3 linked regions of the Homo sapiens genome follow. The protein of the gene in region 3 interacts with the protein of the main gene of each other region in a pairwise test. Each region holds a gene or a part of one and is shown on either strand. Other genes may lie near its edges. The genes, in order: RARB, RARG and MAP6.

What was found.
Region 1: the proteins of MAP6 (region 3) and RARB interact in a two-hybrid assay, tested with the Homo sapiens proteins (one study listed by BioGRID).
Region 2: the proteins of MAP6 (region 3) and RARG interact in a two-hybrid assay, tested with the Homo sapiens proteins (one study listed by BioGRID).

Annotation. Positions count from the first base shown.
Region 1 is NC_000003.12:25,564,207-25,571,330, forward strand, and holds part of RARB (retinoic acid receptor beta), read left to right. Parts: intron 1-5,551; coding exon 5,552-5,712; intron 5,713-7,124. UniProt on the Homo sapiens protein: Receptor for retinoic acid. Retinoic acid receptors bind as heterodimers to their target response elements in response to their ligands, all-trans or 9-cis retinoic acid, and regulate gene expression in various biological processes.
Region 2 is NC_000012.12:53,215,095-53,222,218, forward strand, and holds part of RARG (retinoic acid receptor gamma), read right to left. Parts: intron 5,269-7,124; exon of another isoform or gene 5,123-5,268; coding exon of another isoform or gene 4,856-5,122; intron 701-4,855; coding exon 552-700; intron 341-551; coding exon 199-340; intron 1-198.
Region 3 is NC_000011.10:75,586,394-75,589,138, forward strand, and holds the end of MAP6 (microtubule-associated protein 6), read right to left. Parts: intron 1,792-2,745; coding exon 666-1,791; 3' UTR 525-665; downstream 1-524. UniProt on the Homo sapiens protein: Involved in microtubule stabilization in many cell types, including neuronal cells. Specifically has microtubule cold stabilizing activity.

The sequences.
Region 1 (7,124 bases), on a different chromosome or scaffold from region 3:
AGGTATTTGTATAAGTGACACTTTTATTACATTCATTTCATTTGCAATATGATAGTGGATCATAAATATGTTACTTTTATGCCACCAAATCTGATTTGTAGCACTTAGCCCCTCACAAGGAGAATACTTGATATTTTATGGAGCACCTTTCATCCAAGAAGCGCTTTGCAAACATCAGGCCGGGTTCTATCAGGTGTATAAATCACATCTGTGACCCCCTGAATGCCCCACCTGCTTCATCAACCTTCTGGCTACTACTGTAGGGGTGGAGAGCAGTTAGTGATTCCCCCGCAGACCCCAACATGATAGTGAGACCTTTAAGTTCTGGAAGAAAGAGGCTCAGGTGAACTCTGTATTGCCACATATAGGCCCTGACAGTGGACAGAACACCACATTTAGTTATATGTCTACCTTATCATTTGCAAAACAGTTTTGAGGCCCCCATCTGTGGGTCGGATCTTGTATTAAGCCCTGGGGACATAGAGACAAGTAACATGTGGCCCTTGCCTTTCAGATATTCACAGACTTGGAGGGGAGGGCTTTGATGCAGGCTTGACAGTGTTTGCTCCTCTCTTTGCCTCTCCATTCCCTCCCAGAGGTGCACCGTACCTGAAAGCAGCTTGTCAAACTCCCAGGTCTGGCATAGGTATATGAGTGCATATACCAGTCAGTCGCAATCAGAGTGAAAGAAGAGGTCCACCATCAAACATCCCAGGCAGCCTTGGAGCTGAGCATCAGATGCACACCCCACGCTCCCAGAGAAGAGAGTCATCTCCCCACCCACCATCCCATAGCATCCCTCAATTTACCCTCCCAATTCCCCAGCGTTAGCTTCCTAATCTAGGACCAGTAGGATCCCCCTGCCACACCCAGTAATACACAGGCACAGCTCCCTGTAGCATCCTTCATTGTACTCACTACGCTGTGGACTGTGTGTACATGGGGTAGACTCAGACGCAGCGGAGCACAGTGGGTTTCCTAAGTTCTGATCCTGACTGTATCACTCACAGGATGCATGGCCTCAGGCAGGGTACTCACCTTCCTGTGCCTCCACTTTCTCATCTGCAAAATGGGTATAATAGTGATATCTACTCTATTAGGTTGTTGTAAGGATTGAATGGCCTACCATGAATAGAAGGCTTTATGATAGTTGTAATGAACACTTTCAGTATTGTGGTAAATAATACTCTCGTATATTAATTGCAGTACATGTAATAATAGTGATGCCAATATTCTATTATTATTATTATTACTGTCACTGTTTTATTGTATGATGAATGTCTGTCTGCTACCATAAGTTTTTGCTCCATGGTAGCAACAACCATCCTGTTTTGCGATGGCACATAGTAGATACTCAATAAATATTCATTGAATGAATGAATGAACAAAACAATGAAGGAACAAATGAATCCACCCACTCATTTGGTGCCACTGCGATGGCTTCTCCAAGCACCATTTTTCATATCAGTCTCCTCTGCCACTGACAGCCACAGGCCCCACAGTAATCCCCACAAGTCCTTGGTGTTTAGGTCATCCATTTCCCCCACGGAAGGGCCTTACATTCTTCCTGCATAACTAACCCACATAGGCCTTTACAGTAGTCTACCTCCTTCCCACCAAGCCCACCATCTGTGTGTCTCCATGCAGGTGCTACTGCCATCTCGGGGGAGGCTCTGAAAGGAGCTGTCTCCTCTGGAGTTGACCCCAGGTGGTAAGTGGTGGAGCTAGCACTAGTTCCAGATCTCCTGACTTCCCCTGCAGTACTTGTATCGCCCTTGCCTCCCACTGCTGGCCTCCAGGGGAACGAGTCCCTGCACTGCCCCAGGAGCCACTGACCACGAGGCCTCAAAGGGACCAATAGTCCCAAGAACTTGGACAAAGCTACCATCCCTAGGCCCCCGTGGCTTCTTGTGCACTGTGTCACCTCCATGATTCTGGTGGTTCTTGGCAGCCCTTCTCAAACACTGCGTCTGCGTTCTTCTAGAGTTTAAAACCATTGAGGGAAGCAGCTGCTGAAGCCACGTGTTTAGAAAATTTGTCCGTCAACTTATGAAGCTGTATGTAATTGGGGCATCATCACCAGAGGGGTTGTCCCTGCATTTTGTGGGTGTGGAAGAATTTGTGATAATCCCAGGAGTCCTTTATTCACATAGACAGTGGTGGTGGGACTTCACGTAGGGGACAAAAGGAGTGTGGAAAGTAGCCTGAGGTTACACACTGCTCCCCTTCGAGTGAGCTGCAAAGGCTGCTCCAAATTGGGCCCAAAGCACAGAAAATGGTGCTCTGGCTTCACAGTTGTGATTTTGCAAACGGCGTGTGTGATCACTGCACAACCCAACAGAGATGCCCAACTTGGTGCCCAGCTGCAGCTCACCCAGGGCCCCTTCCCACAGGACCTCACCCCTCCCTTTCTTGCTTGGTTCAGTTACTTCATGGTGACAGCTCACAGTGTCTCCTCTCTCCTGGTAACCCTCTAGAGCTGGGTTTGCTCGTCTGAGTTTTCCAGGCCCCTGGTGGTGGATGGGGACAGTGAAGCAGAATGCTTAGGAGCAGACACAGGTCCTGCAGACTTCCCTGTGGATGGGATTATGGGGACTCCTTCTGTGGGTTGTTAGTTTGTTTTGTGGTTTCTCTTTCTGCACATTGGGTTGACTATTTTCAAACATGGTATTGTTGGGCCTCAAGTTCCTTGAGTGTAGAAATGGGGTCATAAGGCCCACCTCACCTGGCTTACTGTGGGGATTTCGCGAGCTAGGATTCTTCACCTGCTGATGCCCAGTGGCCCTTGCCACACAATCACTAAAGGGTAGTGAGGCTGCTGCTGTGTTTTAATGTAGCTGTAGGTGTCATCTCAGCTTCAGAATCGACTCAAACAGTTCCTGGTATTTAGCGATGTGTCACCTCCCACAGGGCTCTGGGTTTTTTGTTGGTGTTGTTTTGTGATATAATTCACGTAGCATAACATTCATCATTTTAAACTGTACCATTCAGCGGTGCGTAGTGGATCCACTAAGTTGTGCAGCCTTCACCAGTAAGTCCAGAACATTTTCATCTCCTAAAAAACAAAACCCTGAACCCGTTAGCACTCCCGATCCTCCCTCCCCACCAACTTGCCCCCGTACCTGACAGCCACGAGTCTACTTTTTGTCTTTGGATTGGCCTGTTCTGGACATCCATATAATTTAGAATCACACAATGTGTGGCCTTTTGCGACTGGCTTCTTTAAGGCGTATGTGTGAAAGCTTCATCTGTGTTGTAGTATGCATCCATAATTCATTCCTTTCTATGACAAATAATATTCCACCATAAGGACGTCCTAGATTCCACTTCCCCGTCATCGGGTGATGAACATTTGGGTTCTTTCCACTTTTCAACTGCCGTGAGTCACACTGTCATGAACATTCATGGACAAGTTTTGCATAGACACATATTTTCAGTTCTCTTGGGTGTACACCTAGGAGAGGAATTGCTGCGTCACATGGTACCTCTGCGTATAACTTTGAGAAAAACTGCCGAGTACTCTTCCTCGGGGCTCTGTTTCAGAAGGACCCTCCCTGCTTAGATTTGACTTTTTCACTAGCTAAGGAAGGCCATTGGCAGAGGCCGAGGAAAAGAGGGGGGTCTGATCACCTGAGATCCTGCGCACTCACACACAAGCCTTCAGGCATTCCCTCCCCTCAGCAGCCCAGACTCCATCCTCACGGAGAGCCACCATGCCGCCTCTGCCACCCTGCATGACCCCTTTCCCCCTCATTGTGTCTCCTTTGCCCGCCGGCTTCTTTGCATTCTCTCTGCTTTGAACCATGATACCCACTCTCACCCAGCGTCCTGCGCCGGCTGGGAGGGATCGGGTCACAGAGGTCTCGAGGGGCCAGTCTGCACTGGGAAAGAATACAGCTGAGGCTGCACTTCCCACTCATTTCACCAGTGATCTAGAAATTTTCTGAGCCAATGAGCAGTGTCATTTCAGAGTCCTGGGGGAAGGAAACTGTCTAGAAGGGTGTTCTCTTCAGACCTGTTGGTTTCCTTAGGAATAAGTAAGTGAGTCCAAGTGAGGAAGGAACTTCTCAACCACGTGAACTTGAGCATATTTCTTAGCTTCTCCAAGACTCAGTTTCTTCATCTGTAAAATGGGTTTAAACTTGCCTACCTGATAAAAGGATCAAGTGAGATACCGTGATACCATGTTCAAGGGACTCAAAAAAATGTTCCTGGTCTCCCCAGCTGCCCTCCCTCCTGGTTAGGTAGGAGTGGCTCGTACAGACACTGACTTTGTAGTAGGACTCACCTCCCTTTTTTCCTTTCTTCCCCCTTCTCACCCCTTGCTCTTTCCTTTCACCACTTCCTCTCTCCTCCTGCTATTGTCTTACTCTGCCCTCAGCTCCTACCCCAAATATGGGTATTCTCATGGTGTGGACCCAGGGAACTGCCAGTTCTCAAATCACCCGTGTGCTCTTAGGGAGGCAACTCAGGCCAGATCCTCTTAGGGCAGATCAGATTATGCCCTGGGTCATTTTGCAGTGCAGATTCCCAGGTCACAGTGGTGGCATGCACAGCCAGGCAGCATCCAGCCTGGCACCCGCTGGGCCCCAGAGAACATGGACTCCCTGGAGGGGGTGGCATGGTCTGTTTCGCCTGTCTGCCTCCCTGGGTTTCAGTTTCTTTCCTCGCGAGATCCTAGCCAGGGGCTAGAGCTTTGAGTTACACTCGGATTTGAAGTCATCCCAGAGGTCTGTGCTGCAGGAGGAAGCACGGGCTTCCATAGCACTGTGTCCTGGGCCCTGACTTTGTGCCTGGCACCGTGCTTGGCTCGGAGCATGCAGAGGGAAAGGACACACACCTGCTGTGGGTCCAGTGTTCCAGACACAACGTGGAGTCAAGTGGCTACCAGCGAATAAGGGAATGAATGGTTTTCCAGGCTGAAGATTTCATACTGTATCAATTATTATTTTTAAGTAATTTTATATTCCAAAACAGATAATATGGTTCATACAGAAAGTTTAGAAAGCAGAAAAACACGAAGGGACAAAAACCATCATCCTTATCTCCTCTCAGATGAGTTTCTTCAAAAGTGCCTGTCACTTAATTCAGAAAACTAAAAAGCAAAGACACCAAAATGTGTAGCTAGGAAATACTAATTATGAAGTAACGGGGCTTTGTTCAGAGACCTGACCCTTCCCTTACAATGTCACTCAGGGCATCCCATTTGAGGGTAAAGCTCTTGGAAAAATCCTTCTCTCTTCAAGAGATCCAGTCCACAGAAAAAGTTCTCTCACAACAAGCCAAGACTCTGAGCCTCCTGGGTGAGCCCAAGCTCTCCAAACAACTGACGGGCACATGCATATACAGAAAGACAAACCTAGCTCTCTGCCGGGGTCCCGCGGCTGCCAAATCCCTTTTCCAGGGAGGTGTGTTATTACCACCTCTTCCCACTGTTTCTGTCCCAAATATCAAATGAGCTTAAGGCAGCCTTGGGAGGTGGAACCTCCCAGCTCAGGAGCACAGGCCCAGCCTTCAGCGACCCCTGATGTGCCTTCTCTCTCGTTTCCAGCTGTCAGGAATGACAGGAACAAGAAAAAGAAGGAGACTTCGAAGCAAGAATGCACAGAGAGCTATGAAATGACAGCTGAGTTGGACGATCTCACAGAGAAGATCCGAAAAGCTCACCAGGAAACTTTCCCTTCACTCTGCCAGCTGGGTAAATACACCACGGTAAGAGATACTCCTGCCCCAGGCTGCTGGGAGTGTGGAAACCTTGTACGTGCATGTGTGCAGACACACACACACACACACACACACACACACACACACACACTTTGCACTGGGCCTGGCAGGGGCTTGCATGCTAGCCAGCTGGGGCTATGTAGTAGCCACTTCTTTCTGTGAGGTAGCCTTTGGGCGTGGGCAATCAGTGAGTAGGCTGAGTGCCGCCTCACTGCAGTCATGCACACATGCATTCACTCTAGATGCATTAACTGAGTATTTGCTATACGACAGGCTGTGTTCTAAGCCCTGGCAACATGAACTATTCAGTGCTGCTCTCAGAGACTTTGATCTGGTGAAGGAAACAAGTAAAGCCAGTGAAGCGTTACATGGGTCATGACGGACCTCTGTACGGAGGGACCCAGGGGGACGGGGCCTGATCTTTTAAAAACCCCAATCCATCTGTGAAATCCAACCAAGATAAAGAGGCCATCCCCTGGGCCAAGGTTTGCCTTCTGTGAGAGGACATGTACAAAACCCCCAAGCCAGGGCCTAGAAAAGTTTGGGGTAGGCATGCCCCATGCCCAGTTGAGTGAATGTTCCCCCTCTGCTTCCCAGCGTTCCACTAGGAATGGCCTTTCACTGAGATTGGAAATAAAGAGAGGCAGGAAAAAGAGAAGTGAGATAAAAAGGTAGGAGGTGTATGTTGGCTGGTCTAGGTTGTGCCAGTGGAGGGGTCATGAGGTGCTTTAATTTTTCCAAGTGGTTTTTGCATGTATTATGTTCACTGATGTATATTTCTAACTTGTGGCATGTAATAGACACTCAGTAGATATTTGATGAATTAATACAACTAGAATGTTGTTCTGGCCTCTTTAAAAAGCTTAGGTTGCTCACCTACAATGCTATGGTAAACATACTTTAAAAACAAAATCCAAATATTGTAGCACTTGCTGGCTTGGTGAATGGTGTTCTAGAAAAATGATAGCATGGGAGGTCCTGAAGATCAAAAGACAAAATAGTGATACCAGAAAGAAAAAAAAAAAACAGTGAGCGGCGGGGCTTTGGAGCAGTTCTTGGTGAGCATGGGGTGTAGTGCGCTAGGATGTTGGTGGTATCTGTAACACAATAATGGTGACCAGGAGCAGGCCCAGAGGGGCGCCCATGGAATCTGGGGCCAGCACAAACCTAGGTGGCTTCTCAGATGAAAATGAGACTACACAGTTGGGTGGCACCAGCTTCTGAAGGGCTGGCACCCACCTTAAACAGACAAGTCTCCTGGCTGAGCTCAGAGACTTTGGCTCACCTGGAAGCAGAGGTAGAACCTTGAGCAGTACTTTTCAAAACTCAGCGTGCATCTGAAGCACCTGGTGAACTCGTTACAGTGCAGGTTCTGGTGCAGCAGGCATGGCCTAGGGGCA
Region 2 (7,124 bases), on a different chromosome or scaffold from region 3:
CCTGAGAGGGAGAATGGGAAATGGTGGGGCCTCCTGGTTGAATGGAGCTAATCAAATAAGACTGGCCTGGGAGAAGGCAGCACCCCAGGGCAGGCCAAGTCTCAGAGGTCAGGGAAGTGGGAGTGGCCAGAGGAAAGAGGGCCACAGCCATAGGGTAGGACCGAAGTGCTCCTGCCCAAGCCAAGGATGGCAGCCTACCTTCCTTGGACATGCCCACTTCGAAGCACTTCTGTAGCCGGCAGTACTGGCAGCGATTCCTGGTCACCTTGTTGATGATACAGTTTTTGTCGCGGTGACACGTGTACACCATGTTCTTCTGGATGCTTCGGCGAAAGAAGCCCTGGAGTTGAGGGAAAGAGAGAGGGCCTCTGAAGCACAATGCTGGGAGTACCAGCCTCTCACTGGCCTTGCAGGTTGCCCCAAGCCTGACCTAATCTATTAACCACCTATGTGCAAAGCAGTGCTGCTCAGACACAGCATCTGTGTGCCTGGTCTCTCATCTTACTAGGGTAACTGGATCCCCCGTCTGCCCACTCCCACCACGTACACACCTTGCAGCCTTCACAAGAGCTGACCCCATAGTGGTAGCCAGAGGACTTGTCATTGCACACGAAGCATGGCTTGTAGACCCGAGGAGGCGGAGGGGGCGAGGGCGAGCTGGGCACCATCTCCTCTGAGCTGGTGCTCTGTGTCTCCACCGCTGGGAGGGAAGCAGTGATGTGAGGGTCAGGGGAGAAGGACCCCACAGACCTCCAGGCTTCCTCATCACACACACCCCATGTGCATTTGTTCCTTGGCCCACTGGTGACAGCCATCACTACCACAGTGCACTAGTTCCAGCAGTAAGCACTGTCAGAATCCTCTTAATGACCACTATTACCACAGCTTGTTGTGACCCTAGTTCACCCTCTACCCTCCACAGTCTAACCAACTTGTTCACAAGAATGCCAGCCCTCATCCTATATGACATGTTTAATCCTCCAAATTCCAGACCAAGGCCATTCCGGAAATTGACTTCTCTGGGCCTGTTTCCCTAACTATCCAGGAGGTGGGTAGAAGAGTTAAAGCCCTGCAGCTCTGAGCTCTCTAGTCACTCTCTGTCTCTTTGGTATATCTTTGTCAGGTAGTCTACTTCCCACTGTCCTCCCTGTGGGGCAATAACTCTGGGGGCAGGTAGGCAATGACAGGCTTCCTGTAGCTGCTACTGGCCAAATGACCTGCTGGGATGCTTAGCAGGTAAACCAGGACCTCATTTCCTTTCCAGTAGTACAGGGGGGATAACTCCTCAGGCTTATCTCTCTCACACTACCCCTGAATAACCATCAGAGACAGTGGAGCAAATGGGGCAAAGGTCTCAGGGGAGTGAGTGAGAGGATGCACCACAGCCTTGGTTCACGCCTGAAGAAACTGAGGCCACGAGAGGGGAAGTGACCAGCTCAGTGCCACACCACCAGCAGATCCAAGTGGCTGTGAGTCAGAGAAGCTGGGGAAGCAGAGGCTGAGGTGTTTGCTCAGTTTCTCAGGTCTGGAAGCCGTTGGAGGTGTAGCAAACTGGAGAAGTCAGGTGACAGTAGGTAAACAGGACTGATGGGGGAGGGAACCTGTTTCTGGACCCTCTCTGAGCTTATGTCTTCACTCTGAAAATACCCAATTGCAGCTCAAAAGGGGTCTCAGCCCCACAGTATGGGGAGGACATGCTCTGCTCTGTTCAAAAGGCTGCTGGGTAAGTGTGTGTGTGTGTGTGTGTGCGCGCGCGCGCGCGCGCGCGTGTGGTTGGTCTTCAGAGGCTCGGAAAATTTGTAAATTATTCAACCTGTAGGACCTGTTGCCCAAACCTGGAGGGCCCAAGTTAATGCAAAAAAATTCCTAAGACCCTCCCTAAGGTGTGTCCCACGCACCCACCTCATGAACACCTTCTCCCTTCTAACCCTCTGCAGCCCACCTGGTCAGAAGCCCGCCCCAACGCAGCCAGAAGGGCGGAAGGAATGCCCAGGATGCCAGGGTTCCACGCTAGCTCCACCCACCCCACAGGAGGGAAGCCCTACCCACCCCCAACACACATACAATCAATTAGCATAAGAATCCTGCCAGAGTGAGATTACCCAAAGAAAAAGGAGAGAGGAGAGGGGGGAAAGAAGGGTGCCTGGAGTCTATTCAAGACTAGGGATGGGGGCTCCAGGAGGGGCTGGTGCTGAGAGATGTGAGGAGGGCTGGAACGCCTTTCCCAACCTCTCCTCACTCCTCAGACCCACCACTGTGTCCTCCAAGGGCACGTGTTCTGCCCAAGGCCTGTGCGTGGGGTGGTGCTCACTCTGGCACTGACGCCCTCCCTGCCCGCAGAGCGCTGCCTCATTTCCTCTCTTGCGCAAGGGCCTGGGTGCGGTCAGACTGGCATGGGGCAGTGCCAGCCAATTATAAGACTGGGGGCCTTAGGGAGACAGGCCCGGGGGCAACTTTTCCTGTCTAAGTGATACTGTCACATCCCCACCCCCTGAACCCTAAAGTGCAGCCTAGTGGCTCCGAGGTCAATCTGTGAGGTCAAGGCCCCAGAAAGCTAACTGGGTCTACTCCAATCAGATCCCCTCCCCAGACTCGGGCTTAGACCCCACCATTGGGATGCAGCTCCTGGGTTAGGCAGGGGCCCCTGCTGGGGAGGATGGGGGTGGGCTCTGGGGTTTTCTCCTTTTAAAGCCCAAATTGCTGAAATTGAGGAAATTCCTGACCAGGCTGCGCGGAGCTTCAAACAAACTCTTTATAACCGGCTGTAAACGCTCCCAGCTGCGAGGCTCAGAGCTGAGCAGCCTGGACTCACAATCTAGCACACACCTCCTTGGAGACACACACACTCACAGGTTAACAACACATAAGGCACCAAAGCAGGCATATTACAATGGGATCCTAGAACCCTCACTGGATTCTGGCACAGACACACAGCCAGAATAGAGACACACTCACTCCAGCTACACCGTGGAGGTAGATGTACCAGTCACAAGGCTGACACACAACAGCCAGCACTTGGCCACACAAGGGAACAGCCCTACCACCAGACAAACACCCCAGCCTGCCAACGCAGCACCAGGACACCAAAGCCTCCAAACAGGCACACACACACACACATCCAGCCCACCTCCACCCCCCAAGCACCCTTCCCTCTGAAAGTGTGTGCGGGCAGGCCTGAAGCTGGCTTTGTGTGTCCACCAGGATCCCAGAGGCCAAAATTATTGGTCCCAATTAAAACTCAAAAACCTAGGGCCAGTCAAGCCCAAAGGGCTTCTTCCATAGGCCTGAAAAAAGACAGGGTCTCTGCCCAGCCCCCAGAAGCCCTTCCTGAAAGATTCTTTCCATCTCAGCACCCCCACAACATATAACATACCCCAACTCCCCATCCTATTGGGCAATGAGAGGAAAGTTAAGAATTCACAGGGATTTGGTGCAAAGCAATAGTTCCATGCTTTCTCGGTTCTTTAAATGACACACTTTTAAATTCTTCCCCCACCCCACCCAAAAGTAAAGTCAAGTCCGGTCTCCTGGTTTGCCATCTCCCTCTTCCAGCTTCCCAGTTGTTAAATTTGAGCAGCTCTGCTCTGGAACCAAAAAAAAAAATCCGAACTTGTAAACAGCACTGCTTGGTGCCAAGGAGCGAGGCGCGTTGGCGGGGGCTTGGTGACCTGGCGTGCGCACTCCCCCAGCGCCCGCCGCCCCGCCCGCTGCCCGCCCCTTCCCACCCTTCCCAGCGTGCCCCCAAGCCCCTCATCCCCGGGCCGTCCGCACCCAGGCAGCGAGCACATCCCAGCCCAGGGTAAATTTGGGGGGTGTTCCAGGCTGCGCTCCTGGCCCCTCCCCACACCCCACCCCCGCCAGGCACTGCGGCCCAAGCTTCAAAGCCGCCTCTCATCTGGACTTCATTTTTACTGCCTCTCAGTCCCCAGCTTTTTATTACTGCTCTGGAAAGGGGTTCCAGGGCCCCAGGCCTGGCATCTCCCATTTCACGGAGGGGGAAGATAGATATTTGGGGACCCAGTAATGGTGCTCGCCCTGCCGCTGTCAACTTCAGGCCACCCCCCACCACACACACAGACTTTGCTTTAAACTTTTCGCTTCCTGCTGAAGTTGTTGTGTGTTGGAGCCATAGGAAAAAGTAATCTCTGCATATAACCGCATACACGTTTCCAAACATTTCTTTTTTTATATGGGGGTGGCGTACAAAACTCAGCCTTCTCCCTCTTGTGTGCACAACCTTTTCCACCCGGCATGAGAACACACAGGATGCACTCTCGAACACAGCACTTTCCAAAACCGCCCCCGCAGCCACGCAGGGGCACACGCCCTCCCGGCCTCACGCCACAAACATCCCCTCACAGGCCATGTGGACCTGGCAGCTGTCGCAGGCGACACTGGTGGAGAGACCCTTGCTCCCACACCCACACCACCTAGGCAAGGCGCTGCACACTCCAGGGATTCACACGCTCTGCAAACGATATTTTTAACACTGCCAGCTTCCCACATGGGCTTTACAAACGCCACCCACGGTCCTGAGTGTCATATCCTTCCAGGGCCACGGACGTGAAGGCGCAAACTACCCACACACCTCGGTCTCTCCCTATCCCCAGGAACTCTGGAGTGGCATCAACCACAGGTTCGAGCTAAACACCCACCATAAAAACCACACACACTCCAAACACTACTGCACACACGCAAAGGAGACGCTGAGGCCCCCACGTTTAAAGGGCCAGTACCTTACATAGAAAGGGCCAGAAGCTCCTCCTTGCACCTCAGTTCCACTCTTTACACACGGAAAGAGTAAATCCCACCCTCTCCTGCACCCTACACCCCAGCCCCGGACTCCGGTACCTACATTGCAGGCTGGCGGGTTGCGGCCAGGCAAAAGATTCAAGTCCGGCGAAACAGGAGCCGCCGGTGGCTCTGCGCAGCAAGCCGGCCCCGGGCCCGGCCGCCCCGTACAGCCGTCGCGGACCCGGGGCAAACGTTTCCATACAGTCGTACATCGCGACCCGGCTTGAAGGGAAACTGGGTGCTGGAAACACCAAGGACCCGCAGCCGATTCCCCCTCCTCCCCCGGCGGCGCCCCGCTCCAGCAGGGGGGGAGGGGGAGGGCTAGCATAGGGCGCTGGGCTGCATGCGGGTAAGGGGTGGGCGGGGAAGAGGGGGGATCCCCAGCAGGGGAAAGGGACTGGGCGGGGCGCGAAGCTGGGGCTGCCGCTTTAGCCTCCGTCCAGCTCTTATCTGGGTGCTTCGGCAGCTAGCACTGGGGAGACCTTTTTTAAAAGCGAAGCCTGGAGGGGTGGGGGGTGGGGCTTGGAGAGCGAAGGGGGCCGGGCACCGAGATGAGCAAAGCTGAGAGTGGAGCGCACACATACACATACGTACACTCGCTCCGCGGCGCGCGCGCTTGCTTAGACACACATCCGTGCATGCATTTATCTTATCAGGCACCAAGAATTTGCAAATATGCAAGAGTGAACATACATGTGAGCACGCATATAAAATCATAGGTGCACACACGTTTGTGCAAACACACCTTGCTCGGGAGAATGCTTGCAGGCATACTCTCCACAGCTCATAGGCTTTGCATGCATTTGCACTGAGGCGCGTGCCCAGGTCGGGGTTGGAAGAAGGAGAGGAGGAACCAAGCATAAGCATTTCCTTTCAGAGTTTTCCCTCTCCCCAAACTCTCCCTTTTTCACACTAGTCAATACAGGGGTGTTAAGGATGACTGGGGAGAGGGGAACGTGGAGGTCCCCGCGCGCAGCTGCTCTCCTGAGGCTCGGGACCTGCACTACCTCCACCCCTCTCATTCCCAGGCCTGGCTCCGCCCTCGCCCTCCGCGCGCCCGCTTCAGGGCCGAAAAGTGCATTCCTGCGGCTCGGCGCGCGCTGCCTCCTCCTTCCTTCCCGTCTCCCCACCCGCGGTCCTAGGGCCGGAGCGCGCTCCCGCCGTGAACTCTCTGGGAACCCCCCTCGGGGCGGGTGGCCGAGCGCGCTCACCTCCTCCTGACCCGGCCCCGCCCCACCCCGCCCAGGCCGTCTTCAGCGCTGCCGCGGAGTCCCCCCGCCCCCTCCAGCGCAGCCAGAGTCTACCCCTCCTAGCCCGAGCAGTCCGCCCTCCGCCGCGGCCCGGGCCGCCTCCCTCCGAGTCCCCGAAGCCTTATCCCGCAACTGACGCCCCCTAAGCGCCTCGACCGTCTCTCTCGATGCTCCTTCTTCGAACATAACTTCACTTTTAGAGCACAAAACTACCCCATAAGCTGTGCCTGCCGTGCCAACTGCGCCTCGATGAATCTGCCCCTGATGGCCAACTCCCCTCCTCCAGTTTCTCACTGCCAAGGGCTCCCTCGGCAATAGGGGCGCTTCTGGTCACTGACTGTTCTCAGGGTCTTTAAATACCCTCTAGCCTAGGCATAACTGCCCTCCCTTCGGTTAGTGCCCCTCAGCTCTCCAAGGCCGCAACACTGTTCCCTGGGTTGCCCCTTCCGGCACTGAGCGCCCTCGCCCGGCGGAGAAGGGGGTGAGGTGGGCGGGGGGCTGGCCACGTCAGAAGTTTGCCCTGGCCCGGCAGGGCCGAATGGGGGGACCCTGGCCCCGGACAGCGCCAGCAGCGGCGACTCCCGGAAATCCCCCCCTCCCCCGCGCCCCGCCCTCAGCCGCCGGGCCGCCCGGCCTGCCTGCCCAGCCGGCTCTGTCAGCGCCGCTCACACGGGCAGCGCCGCGGAGCGGGAGCGGCGCCCGGCCCGGCCCTTCCCCCGCCAGGCGGCTGTGGCTGGGCCAGGGCGGGGCGCGCTTTTCTAAGAATCTGTTGTACCGGGTGGGGGGCGCACTGGGGTGCTGCAGGAGTGGGGCGCCTGTTGGAAGAATAAAGGGCAGGAAGGGGTGCCAGAGTAGGCGAGGGATGGCGGGCGCGGGGGAGGGGCGGGGGGCTGCCGGGGCTGGGAAAAGGCCTGACTTGTGGATGGCGAGGAAACCTCGGGGTGGCAAGGCTGACTAGGGGGCTTGAAGCAGGGATGGAGAGGGAATGCACTGCTCTTTCCAACCCAGTGTAAACTCCCTTCTCCTCCCCCAACCCCAAATACCCATTTCTGAATCCAGTCACCCGAACCCCACAAAAAA
Region 3 (2,745 bases):
GGATTACAGGCGTGAGCCACTGTGCCTGGCTCTAGGTATATTCTTTAGAAGCTCTCAGTTGAGCTGTCATGGATATTGAATGAGGATTAGCAGGTGTTAGGTTATACAGTGTCCTGAGACTTATGATCAGAGCCTGGTTTCCTCAAGAAGTTTGACCCCTGGATGAGCTTTAAGGCTGAGCTCTTGGCAAACAACTGTCATCCAGAATTCCCCTGTGCCAGGTGGGTCCCTGCTCCTGTTTCATCTGCAGGCTTCAACTCAGCTACCCAGGGCTCAGCCTGCTGGGATTTGGCACCTCTTGTGAGGCTGTCATGGTATCTGACCCTTGCCTTATCCTGCCCACCTCCGTGATGGGGTCCTGTTTCCATCTAGCATCGCCTACCCACTCCCATCTCATGCTGACAACTCACAGGAACTGGTGCTTCTCAGACCCCTCTGGTCCAGACGGGTGAATGCAGAGCCTGACAGGCCCACCTATACACATGTATGCACCCCTGCCCAACAGAGACAGAGAGAAACATTGCTGAGCCAGAGGGACCATTTTTATTAGATTCCAGCAAGACTACTGTACATGTTTCATGCAGATTAAATATGTGTCTTCACTGCCCCTGGGAGGGGAGCACTCTCACTGTCAGCTCCTTCATTGGTGTGTCAAGGGGTGAGTGTCAAGGGGAGCTCTCAATGTATTCCGTATGGGGGGCAGTTGGGATCATGACTCGGGGTAGAGGTGAGACAGTAGGTAGCTGAGGGTCCCTGGGACCTTGAGTCTTCAGAGGTTCAGGGACTGCAGGACCTTGGTCCTTTGCTGGTACTGGCACCAGAGGATCTTGATCCTTCAGAGGCACTGGGACTATAGGAACTTGATTCTTCAGAGGTTCAGGGACTATACGACCTTGATTCTTTGGAGGCTGTAGGACTGTGGGGCCTTGATCCTTAACTAGTACTGGGAGAATGGGGTCTTGATTCTTCACGGACTCGGGGACCACAGGACCTTGATTCTTTACAGGTGCCACAACTGCAGAATCGTGAACCTTTGCATGCTCTGGGACTACAACATCTTGATCCTTGACTGGCCCTGAGACCACTAAACCTTGATTCTTTACAGGCTCAGAGACCATGGAACCTTGATTCTTTATGGGTGCTGTGGCCATGGCACTTTCATCCTTCGGATGCTCTGGGACCATGGGATCTTGATCCTTGATAGGTGCTGAGACCATGGGACCTTCATCCTTGACAGGTGCTGGGACTATGGGACCTTCACCCTTGACAGGTGCTGGGACTATGGGACCTTGATCCTTGACAGGTGCTGAGACCATGGGACCTTGATCCTTGACAGATGCTGAGACCATGGGACCTTCATCCTTGACAGGTGCTGGGACCATAGGAGCTTGATTCTTCACAGGCTCAGGAATCCTAGGACCTTGATCCTTTAGAGACTCTGGTACCACAGAGCCTTGATCCTTAACTTTTGCTGGAACCATAGGACTTTGATTCTTTGGAGGAACTGGGACCGAGGGACCTTGGTCCTTGACTGGTGCTGAGATAACAGGGCTTTCATTCTTTAAAGGCTCAGGGACCGTGTGATCTTGATCCTTGACTGGTAATGGGATCATGGGACCTAGATCCTTTGGAGGCCCTGGGACCACAGAACCTTGCTTCTTCAGAGGCTCTTGCACCATAGGACCTTGACCTTTCAGAAGGCCTGGGACCACAGAACCTTGATCCTTGTCTGGCTCTGTGGCTACAGGACCTTGAGTCTTACTTGAATCACTGACGGGTTGAGCCAGGCTCCTGCAAAGGAGAGAGAGGTGATCACTGTGAGAGTAGAGCTCAGGCAGGGACAGGGCAGAGTACAGATTGCCTAATAAGTCTTGGCCTAGTGGAGCCTGGGCCGGGCAGCTCTTGCTGGAGAGCCAGGAGAATATGATTTCTGTGTTCTTAGTACAGAATGTGGGCGGGGGTGAGGGAGGGGGGTGAGGTGAAGGCTCAGGAATCAGTCATTCAATGTGCTTGCCAATTGATTATAACCTGCACGTGGCACAGGGGGTGGCACGCTGGTGACAATGGCAGTACTGTAGCTGGACTCGGAGTCATCCAGTAGGCATCCCAGCAGCCCGTCCACCCCACATTCCATCCAGGTCCCTACTTTTTCTTCTAGGATCGTTGGGCCCATCCTGGGAGCCCCATCTCAGCTGCCCACCAGATGCCCCCACAGGCCAGGGTGCTCTTTTCTTGTTCTCAGGGCCTTCAAAGTTCTTTTGCCTCCCTGACTCCCTGACCCCCTTGTTAAGTGCTGGCTGCAAGAAGGGGCAAGGGGTCCATGGCATACCAGGAAAGGAAGCAGTGGGAATGCCCCTCTCTCCCTCTCCTGCAAGGGGAAAAGTATTTTATCACTGACATTGTATAGAATGAGCAGCATATAGTGATAATAAAAAGCAGGCCAGCTATTAGTTTTTTGTTATTTGTTTTTGTAGAGACGGGGCCTCACTATGTCACCTAGGCTGTTCTCCAGCTCCTGACCTCAAGTGATCCTCCCACCTCAGCCTCCTGAATAGCTGGACTACAGGCAGCTTTTAGCTTTATTGCTTTAAATTCTCCATAGACAGTGCGCCCTGTGATTGCATGCACCACTCCCACTACCCCCAACCTTTGCTAGGTGACTCAATGGGACTCCGCTTTCAGGTAGGGATGAGGCCCTGATCCCCTAACTCCATTCCCACTTCTGGCTCTCTCTGCTCTCCTGAG